2 separate regions of the Homo sapiens genome follow, and region 1 is linked to region 2. Evidence: fine-mapped expression QTL. A gene starts in region 2. The other region holds a variant in brackets. All regions are shown on one strand. Distances are from middle to middle.

Region 1 (5,388 bases), 25 kb after region 2:
CCAGCAATCACACACTTTGGCATTTACCCAAATGAGTTGAAAATGTATATCCACACAAAACCTCTACACGAATGTTTATAGCATCTTTAGTCACAAATGCCAAAACTTGGAAGTAACCAAGTTGTGCTTCAGTAGGAAAATAGATAAACTGTGGTACATCTATACAGTGGAATATTAAAAGAAATGAGACTTATAACGCTATGAAATGACATGGAGGAAACATAAACACATATTAATAAGTGAAATAAGCCAATCTGAAAAGGTTACATACTGTAATATGCCAACTATGTGACATTTTGAAAAAGGAAAAACTAGGATATAGTAAAAATATCAGTGATTACCAGGGATTAAAGTGGGGGGGAATGAGTCAGCAGAGCAGAGAGAAATTTTTGGGCTATGAAACGACTTTGTATGAAATTGTAATGGTGGATACACAGCATCAAACTTTGTTAAAACCCCATAGAATGTACTTCCTTAAGAGTGAAACCCAATGTAAATTACAGACTTTTAGTAGATAATTATGCATAAATATTGGCTCAAAAATTGTAATAAATGCACTGCACTTGCATTAGCAAGATATTAATATGGGAAATTGGGGGTGGTGAGTTCCTACACACTTCACAATTTGTAAATAGCACTTAACTAGACCCACATCACTCCCCCTCAGAGAGAGGAGGGAGTTATTTCTTGCCTGTGATTCCTGCCTCTGGCTCCCAGAGTTCTTACTAAAATCTCCTAATCTCTGAATGTTACGTAGGAAACACCAACACTTTTGCTAACAGAGATCTCTCTTTCTAGGTCTTTCACACAGCTCTGCTTGCAAGGCAGTAAGAGGAGTTAAAATGCTGAAAGAATGGCAGATTCTCTTATGCTATGTTAGACATTTATTCCATTAGTTTATTTTTGTTTTTAGAGAAACTCACTGAAGCCTGGGATTAAGAGGGCTTTGATTTCTTTACACAAAGCAATGTCTTGCCAAGGAAAATGAGAACCTCTAAAAGCCTTTGTCTTTTCTGCACGGAACAGCCATTGTCACTAAGTCAATGACATCTCTGCAGAAGACAAAGAAGTAAGAAATGCTTAGATTTACCCTAGCTTATTAAACCAGGTTTGTCTTCCTCCCAATTCCTAGAGGTTCCCAAAGTCTTAGAGTATGTCAAAGTGCACGAGGACTACTGACAATATCCAATTTTTGAGAGATGTTTAATGAAAAATTAAACTAGATATAGAAGAATAGGAAGGAAAAGTATAGATGTTTTACTAAAAACATCTCTAAAATAGCAGGCATCCTCTGCCAGGCTTCCAGGACAATGTCTGTTGCTCTTGCTCAGGGTAGGAGAATGTGATCTCAGAGCAGTAAACCCGAGACAGCCCCCTGGCAATCTGCAGATCTGGTGGTTTTGTTTTTTCCTCTCCTTTCATTTCATTTCTCTTCAGTTTCATTTGTAAACTGGCTGGGTTATGTCCCGACAGGTTGAGATGTTTAGATGTTTCTTTGAGAGTACTTCATGGTACCAAGAACGTGGTCTCTCTTCTCCATTCTTCATAGCCTTCTAGTTAAGGATGCCTCATCTAATCTGAAAGCATTTACTGTGCTCAGAATCCTATCACACTGCAGCAGGTCCTTAATCTGTCACTGACACTGAAGATTAATAATATTACAAATGCCTGTGATAAAGCCTATCTCTCATTCGTTTTTTCTGAGTTTCCTTGTCATGCAAAGATCATGTGAAGAGTTCCCCCCTTTCCTGGACCAAACTGAGGGTCAAGCTGCTATTTCTTGTGGCCCAATAATGAGATACAGATGAACTGGGGAGGAAGAGAGTTTATTTCTACAACCAGTTACAGGGAGAAGACCTGGAAATTATCACCAGATCAACTCAAAATTACAAAGTTTTCCAGACCTTATATGTCTTCTAAGCTATATGTCTATATGTAAGTGTGCATTCATCTATAAAGACATAAGTGATTAATGTCTTTTAATCTATAACTAAGGTCTGAGCCCTGAAGACCTTCTTCTGGAGTCTCAGTAAATTTACTTAATCTAAGTGGGTCCAGGTGCGAGCGTGATTACCCTTATCTTTTCTCCTGCTAAATCATGGAGGTTTGGGGAGTTCCTTTAGACCCCTAATAAACTTGTTTGTGGA[G/A]GCCTGGGGAGTTTCTTCAGACCCCCAAAACTTTTTTTTTTCTTTTTTGAGACAGAGTCTCTGTCGCCCAGGTTGGAGTGCAGTGTTGCAATCTCGGCTCACTGAAACATCTGCCTCCCAGGTTCAAGTGATTCTCCTGCCTCAGCCTCCTGAGTAGCTGGGACTACAGGCATGTGCCACCATGCCTGGCTAATTTTTTGTATTTTTAATAGAGACAAGATTTCACCGTGTTAGCCAGGATGGTCTCGATCTCCTGACCTCGTGATCTACCCGCCTTGGCCTCCCAAAGTGCTGGATTACAGGCTTGAGCCACCATGCCCAGCCAAAACTTGTTTAATCCTAAATGGGTCCTGTTAAGTATTCCTTTGTTATTTGTCATGCTTTAAGGCCCAGGAAAGGCCTTCGCAAAACTCTTGGTGGGCTTTTGTTACATTATAGCCTTTGTATAAAGTCACTGGCTCTTTTAGCTTTTAATATTTAACTTAATCACCCAGTCAGTACTGAAACAGTTGTTATGAAGCCCTGCATTAGTGAGACCTGACCTGCCACACCCCTACACAGGATCCTAAGACAGACTGTTAAAGGCAGGTCCCCAGAGTGGCACTGTAGGTAAACACAGAGACAGTTGCAGCATAGAGACAACTGGGACCCCTCTGCAAACTGCTCAGCACCTTTTCTATCTCTCTGTGAAACTCTTCTGTCGCTTGAAATGCAATTTATAGACTTAGAGGAATTCTGTGTTTCATCACATAACAAAATGCAGAAGGTAGAACTCATCATTTTTGTCTTTGGCTACCCTGAAAGCAGATGTTTTGTTGTTAAGAGAATAATAACAAAGTTTTTTTTATCGTAATGATAGAAGGAAACAAGAATAAAGACCCTTGTATATGGAGTATAAAAGAAGAAATGAATAATGCAGCTGACTGAAGAGGGGGACTCAGTAACTGAAGAGCTGGGAAAGCGGATTGAAAGGATTGAAGACTTAGGTGTTTGCCTCAAGACCCTGGGAGTTCTTTATCCAGTTCTCTTATTTTTGTTTTGTTTTGTTTCTCATTTGATGGGAAGAAAAGATTTGAGAGAAGGGTAACTCCAGGAAGCTGTTTTAACAACCTCAGAACTAGAATACTTTGCCACAGAGTTATAAGATACTTCTTTTTTGCTTTTACTTTTGTTTTTGTTTTTTGACATTTGTTTCTGTTTCAAAAATGTTCAATTAAAATATGTGGCAAAGACATTCTGTTCACACACCCCATCCATTGCAATGACAGTTCCCAGCTTCAAACCTGCAAACCGACTTTTTTTTGGAAACCAGTTTGTCTCCTAATAGCATTTGGTTGCTTTTATCTCCTTACTTTTGATTTAAAAAAATGTTTTTCTCCTTCTATGTGAAATTTCATTTCAAAAAGAAGACTGATGGCAGGCATTGAATCTGGAAGCTCTTCCACCCAGAGTGACAAAAATAAAGAGTGATGCTGAAAGCTGCACTGCATGAAATCCTCTCTCTGCCGTCCTTTCTCCAAATCCCTTGCTGGCTCTAAAGAGATCTCCTGAGAACAGAAATTGTACATTGACATTGACTGGTTTTTATTCAACGATTAAGCCACACCTCATCTCCTGTATTTTCCAAATAGACAGCAGGGCTGTTTTCTTAAAAGTGAAAGAAAACGTTGACAAGGATCTCACTATATTAGATCATTTCCAAGGTCACTCATGACCCTATTATCTCCTGCTCTCCAGTAGCCTAAACACGGGATCAGAGGGTAGTAGAATATCCTTAACATTGGCTTCTATAGGTGTGTTGCTGCTAACTTGGAGAGGGCAGAGACAGGCTATTACAGACTTCTTTCATGATGCAAATGTGGGAGCTAGTCCTTTGTTACCAGCTGGTAAGGGAAGTTGGCAGATACATGAAAATGGAAGGACTAGCACATAGCAAACAAATGGCCATTTAAAATGTTGTTATTCATTTAGAAAGTCTACAAGTCAGACTACTAATGCTAAATTGGAGTGAAATCAGACCCCATACATAGTAATGAGCTTTGAAGTTTAGCTTAGAGTTAAGAGAGATCCATCATTTTATGTTAATGCAGACAGGCCAGACAAGGAGAATGACAATGGGAAGACATACAAACTAGGTGAGCACCAAGAAAAGCTTTTACAAGCCATTCACAAGGAGTGCAAACAATAGTGAATGCACCGATTCCTTCTAAAATGCTCCCATTCAATGTTTTTCAGTGTCTATGGAAGGAATAAAACACATTGCCCACAGTTCTCTTTGTTCTAATCACTTCCACAGAGGTTGAAGATTTATTGGCTAATGGGAAACCAGGAGGGGCATAAAGGCTTTTCTTGATTAACATGGGTAATGATGTCATAAATAGAGAGCATAAAATATTCATTTATATTTGATAATCCTCTGAAAATCTATTGTCGTAGGATCACGTAGGCCAATCTGCGGCATCTTTAATCACATTTTAATGGCATCACATGGGCAGTGTGTAATAGCACTTCATCTCACCTCAAGAATGCAGAATAACCGAGTTTTCCGTAGTAATCAGGCATTGTGCATTAAATTCTTAATTCAAAATAACAAAGGCTAACATTTATTGAACACTTACTAAGTGTCAGCTACTAGATACCTTACATATATAGTTAATATTCACAATATTGTTATAAAGAGATACTATCTCATTTTAGAAAATAGGAAACTGAGGCATGGGAGGATAAATAATTCACACAGCTAGAAAGTGGTAAAGCAGAATTTCAAACCCAAGCAATATGACTAAAGAACTCATGTTCTTAATTACTACATTAAATCTTTGTCATTTATTACAACTTTATAAACTTCCACAAATCTGAAATTTCAAAAATTTGAAATGATTTGATTTTAATTTTCCAATATTGTATTATCATTTAATACATCTCCAAATTATCCATGTTGCTTAATTTGGCTGCATTGGGTCAGACATTTATGGAAATAGAATTGCACTCATCAGATTTGTCTGTAGTATCTGGGCTTCTTAGAAGAAACCAATGAACGCCCGCATCGACATCATCATCCCCAGAACTATTCACCCAGCCGAAAACTGTGCTAAGCACTAGATCTCATGGGGTCTCATGGACTGCTTGCTTCCGGAGTTTATCCACTTTTAATGCACTTCAGATTTGAAACATAAAAAGTATAGTATCCTATAAATGAAAGAAAGTTGTTAGAGAATAGGCGAATTTTCCCAGGTACAGT
Region 2 (5,388 bases):
CTGCTGGTCTCCTGAAATCACTAAATGTGATATTCTGAGTGTGAAGCTTCATTTCTTTCCAGGGATTCCCTGAAAAATGAGAAAATAGACTTGAGCTAGTAATATATTCTACTTCGACTATCCACAAATATTTACAGACAAACAAGAATCACAGCCTAAGAAGAGATATCACACGCAAACAAACTCTAAGAAAGCAAAATTAATAAAGTGGAAAAAGGGAAACCTCCACATAAACAGTCCTCACTCCTCATCAAGAATTGAGATGTAATTTGTTTAAAAAAAAGAAGTGGGGGAAGAGGATGATGAGGAAGAGCAGAAGCAAGAGGTGAAGATGAAGAGGAGGAAAAGAAAAATAAATGAAAATAAAGTGGTTAATAGTAAAATAGAAGCCTCTCAACAACAGTTCTTGGAGTTTTAAAATATTGTTATAGAAACAAAATAATAAAGAGTAGATGAGTGCTATAAATAATATACGTAGTGAGAATGTGATTTATAAGGTGGAAACTTGTGTGAAGGAAACAAAAGATATTAGAAGAAAAATAATGAAACTTGGAAGATAAATCTAAAAATTCCAACATTCATCTAATAGGAGTTCTAGAAATTCATACAACAATTTGCCAAAGATGAGATTATCAAAGACTTTTTTTAAAAAAAAGAAAATGTCATGGTGCAAAGAACTTAAATTCACCTTTAGAATAAAAGGGCCAACAGGGCACAGAGCTGACTAATAAAATTTATATTACTTGTAGAATATAAACATATGGGGGGATAATAGGATTATAAAACCTAAAATAGTTGCTAAGAAATTATTTCTAAGTACTTAAAGGCCTAATGTAAAAATAATTATCATTCGTAATTAAAATTCCATTTTAAGAAAGCGCAGGAGGTGGTGAAGTTAGAAGAAAAAGTAAAAGCATGTGAAAAATAGTGTCCTTCCATGTGCAGTGTGAAAAGACACAGGCAGAAGAATATATAAACAAAATGTTTTTAATAAAAAAACCTTCTGAAAATAATAAGCAAAATAAAACTCAGAAAAAAATAGGCAAATGAGATAGACTCTTAATTCACAGAAGAAATCCATGGATCTGATAAACTAATAACAAACCGGTAATCAAAGAAACAAAAATTTTAAAAGTAATGAAATAGTGCTTTTCATCCCAAATTGTCAAAAATTAAAAATAGTAATACTTAACACTCAAGTTTTTACTATGTTATATGATGAAATGGAATAAATAAAGAGATGATCTCACTCAGTGACCATAATAAAACTATGGAGAATGTGTTTTTAATATTCTATCTGTATAGATGGGAATATCAAGATTTTGGGAAACTTCCAGAACCTTCTCTACTCTTCCAGAAATCCTCCATCGCCTCCCCTTCACAGCTAAAATTTTGGGAGGTTAACTCTGTACATATCATATCCACTTTCTCACCTTCTTCTTTTCACTCATTAACTTAGGGCAGTTATTTCTCTACTTCCATCACTCCAGTGAAATATTTATTTCCAAGCAAACCACTGTATGATTAACCCAGTAGCTTCTTCTCAGTCCTTATCTTCATTGCCTTAGGTGATTGAAATTGCAACTTATTTTAACTTCTTGATGCATCTTCTTTCCTTGACTATGGCCCTAAAGGCTTGCACATTTCTTCTTGCTCTTTGCTGAAACCTGCACATACTTCTCTATGCCTAACCTGCCACTTCCCCTAACTCCCTAGTGCTCCAGAAGCATTCGTTATGAGCCAGTGAGTTTAAAATATGTACATTCCCTTGCAGACAAACAAATTACATCTACATGCAAAATGAAGTTGCACAGAGGACCAGTTTCTTAAGGTAAAAGAAGAAGTATGGCAATTATTCCCTTACCCACAAACTCAGACTATCTCATATTGGTACAGGAATGAAGAAGAAATTACTTACACAGATAGTGAGGGTATGGAAGTCTTCGGTACAGTTTTCCTTTTAATGAAAAGTAGCCCCAAATCATGTTCCTTTCTAACAAAGAGCAGCCTGTAAAATCAAGCTGCAGATATAGATGCTGGCAGTTGTGCCAATCATGTTCAAAATAGCGGCTCCACCTTCCCTTCTCTGCCAGCCACATGTACAGTAAGGAGCAGACAAGATGGCCCTGGCCAAGGGGAAAGTTCAGTTACATAATAAGATTAGGGTAGGGTGGCCAGCCTTCCCTGGGCTATGTAAATGTCACACCTGATGGAACCAATCTGTGAGCTCTACATAAATCAGACACCGCCTACTGGAGCCTGACTATAAAATTCACCACATGTGCTGCCAGCTGGCCTTTCCTCTTGGAAATCTCCTCCCTCTCCCTAGAGAGAGAGAGAGCTGTTTTCTTTTCTTTTTCTTTTCCCATTAAACCTCTGCTCCTAAACTCCTCATATGTGTCTGTGTCCTAAATTTTCTTGGTGCAAGAGGATGAACCCCAGGTATTTACCCCAGACACCATAACTGCTTCAATATCGCTTTTGCTCATGTTTAAAAAAAATACTCCTAATTGTAATTCTTTTTTGTGAACATGTGACTAAACAAAATGAGTACAGCACAACAGGTTCCTGTTGTGCATCAGGATAATAATCTAGTATTTTTATCCATTTTTTGGATAAATGTATTTAACTCCATTTTTTCAGAACTGGTCATGGAACACAAACATTGTCTTGGTAAATAAATGCCTCATTTATTTACCAATAATAAATAAATATTATTTATATTTATTTATTTATCTCTACTTTTATTTTAGGTTCAGGGAATGCATGTGGAGGTTTGGTACATGGCGATATTGCTTGTTGCTGAGGCTCAGTGTAAGAATGATCCTGTCACCAAGGTAATGAGTACAGTACCCGATCGGTACCCTTCCATTCCATGTACCACTCCCACCCTTCTTCCTTACGCAGCCCCCAGTGTCTATTGTTCCCATCTTTGTATCCATGTATACTCAATGTTTAGTTCCCACTTGTATATGAGAACATGCCTTATTTGATTTTCTATTCCTGCATTAATTTGCTTAGGATAATGGCCATCTGCGTTCATGTCCCTGCAAAAGACATGATTGTGTTCTTTTTGATGGTTACGTAGTATCCCACGGTTTATATGTACCAGTTTCTTTATGCAGACTACTATTGATAGACATCTTGGCTGACTCTGTGTCTTTGCTAAGGTTACTAGCTCTGTAATGAACATACGAATGCATATGTCTTTTTGGTAAAATGATTTATATTCTTTTGGATGTATACCCAGTAGTAGGATTACTGGGTCAAATAGTAGTTCCATTTTAAGTTATTTGAAATATTTCCACGCTGCTTTGCACAGTGGTTGAAATAATTTACATTTCTACCAGCAATGTATAAGTGTTCCCTTTTCTCTGCAGCCTTGGCAACATCTATTTTTTTTTTTTACTTTTTAGTAATAGCCATTCTGACTGGTGTGAGGTGGTATTTCATTATGGTTTTGATTTTCATTACTCTAATGATCAATGATAATGAGCATTTTAAAAATGTATTTGTTTATCACATATATGTCTCTTTTGAGAAGTATCTGTTTATGTCCTTTGCCCACTCTTTAATGGGGTTGTTTTTTGTTGGTTGAATTATTTAAGATCCTTACAGATTCTGGATATTGGGCCTTTGTCAGATACAGAGTTTGTGAATATTTTCTCCCATTTTGTACGTTGTCTCTTTCCTCTGTTGATAGTTTATTTTGCTGTGTGGAATCTTTTCAATTTAATTAGGTACTACTTGTCAATTTTTGTTTTCGTTGCACTTGCTTTCAAAGACTCAGTCATAATTTGTTTGCCAAGGCCGATGTCCAGAATGGTATTTCCTAGGTTTTCTTCTAGGGTTTTTATTATTTTAGGCCTTATATTTAAGTGTTTGGTTTACCTTTAGTTAGTTTTTGTATATGGTGAAAAGAAGTGGTCAAGTTTCAATATTCTGCAAATAACCAGCCAGTTATCCCAGCACCATTTATTGAATTGGAAGTCCTTTTCCCAGTTTGTTATTGTCAACTTTGTTGGCCGGGTGCCGTGGCTCACACCTGTAATCCTAGCACTTTGGGAGGCCAAGGCAGGTGGATCTCCTGAGGTCAGGAGTTCAAGACCAGCCTGGCCAACGTGGTGAAACTTCATCTCTACTAAAAGTACAAAAATTAGCCAGGCCTGGTGGCAGGTGCCTATAATCACAGCTACTTGAAGGCTGAGGCAGGAGAATCGCTTGAACCTGGGAGGTGGAGGTTGCAGTGAGCCATGATTGCGCCATTGCACTCCAGCCTGGGTGACTAGAGTGAAACTCCATCTCAAAAAAAAAAACAAAAAAAAAAAACTGTCGAAGACCAGTTGGTTGTATTTGTGCAGCTTTGTGAGTTCTGTATCCTGTTCCATTGTTCTATGTGTTGTTTTTGTACCAGTACCATGATGTTTTGGTTATTGTAGCCTTGTAGTATAGTTTGAAGTTGGGTAGTGTGATGCCTAGTGGCTTTGTTCTTTCTGGTTAGCTTTGCAATTCAGGCTCTAAAATTCATATGAATTTTAGAATAGCTTTTTTCTAAATCTGTGAAAAACGACATTGATAGTTTGATAAGAATAACACTGAATTGATACATTTCTTTGGGCAATTTGGCCATTTTAACATTATTGATTCTTCTAATCCATGAGCTTGGAATGTTTCTTCATTTGTTTGTGTCATTTTTTATTTCTTTCAGCAGTGTTTTGTAATTCTTCTTGTAGAGATGTTTCACCTCCATGGTAAGCTGTATGCCTAGGTATTTTAATCTTTCTGTGGCTATTGTAAATAAGACTGCATTCTTTATTTAATTCTCAGTTTGGATATTATTGGTGTATAGAAATGCTACTGATTTTTATACATTGATATTGTATCTTGATACTTCAATGAAGTCGTTTATCAGTTCCAGGAGGCTTCTGGCAAAATATTTGGGGTTTTCTAGGTATAGAATCATATCTTCTGCAAAGACAGATAGTTTAACTGCCTCTCTTCCTATTTAGATGCCTTTAATTTTATTATCTTGCCTGATTGCTCTGGCTAGGACTTTCAGTAGTATTCTGAATAGGAGTGGTGAGAGTGAGCATCCTTGTCTTGTTCCAGTTCTCCAAGGGAATGCTTCCAGCCTTTGCCTATTCATGCCTTATTAAACCATGTAATAATGTATAGTGCAACTAAGCATTTTTGAATGATGTCTGTTTAGATAGCAAGCATCAGTGACTTATGGTTTATTAACAAATATATTTTGTTACTTCCAAAACATAGAAAATGATCTCTACCTGATAAAGGCATTTAACAATAAAATATGAAAAAAGGAAACATTTATACCAAAGAAGGCCTTGTAAAAACCAAAAAAGATTATACTGCAAATATTTAATATTA

Alleles and levels. Positions count from the first base shown, and alleles are read on the strand shown. Sizes are in standard deviations (SD) of each study's normalised expression.
As copies of G replace A in region 1, the expression in skeletal muscle of the gene that starts at base 2,199 in region 2 goes up (moderate effect, 0.61 SD a copy in GTEx).

What was found. PIP is the estimated chance that this variant, and not a neighbour inherited with it, causes the effect. A credible set is the group of variants that fine-mapping cannot tell apart.
Region 1: its variant is the best candidate, but not a certain one, in a credible set for the expression of LINC01886 in skeletal muscle (GTEx, PIP 0.85).

The regions. Positions count from the first base shown.
Region 1 is chr2:107,501,471-107,506,858 of GRCh38, reverse strand. The region is part of intron 2 of LINC01885 (long intergenic non-protein coding RNA 1885); the gene reads left to right. Among named protein-coding and RNA genes, the nearest start is that of LINC01886, 25 kb to the left of the region's middle. RefSeq lists enhancers at 3,227-3,960, 3,961-4,695. The variant G/A (reference allele first, on the strand shown) is at 2,148.
Region 2 is chr2:107,526,230-107,531,617 of GRCh38, reverse strand. LINC01886 (long intergenic non-protein coding RNA 1886) reads right to left here and starts at 2,199. Exons shown (of 3, transcript NR_146968.1): 1 at 1,919-2,199. LINC01885 (long intergenic non-protein coding RNA 1885) reads left to right here. Exons shown (of 6, transcript NR_183423.1): 2 at 2,754-2,837.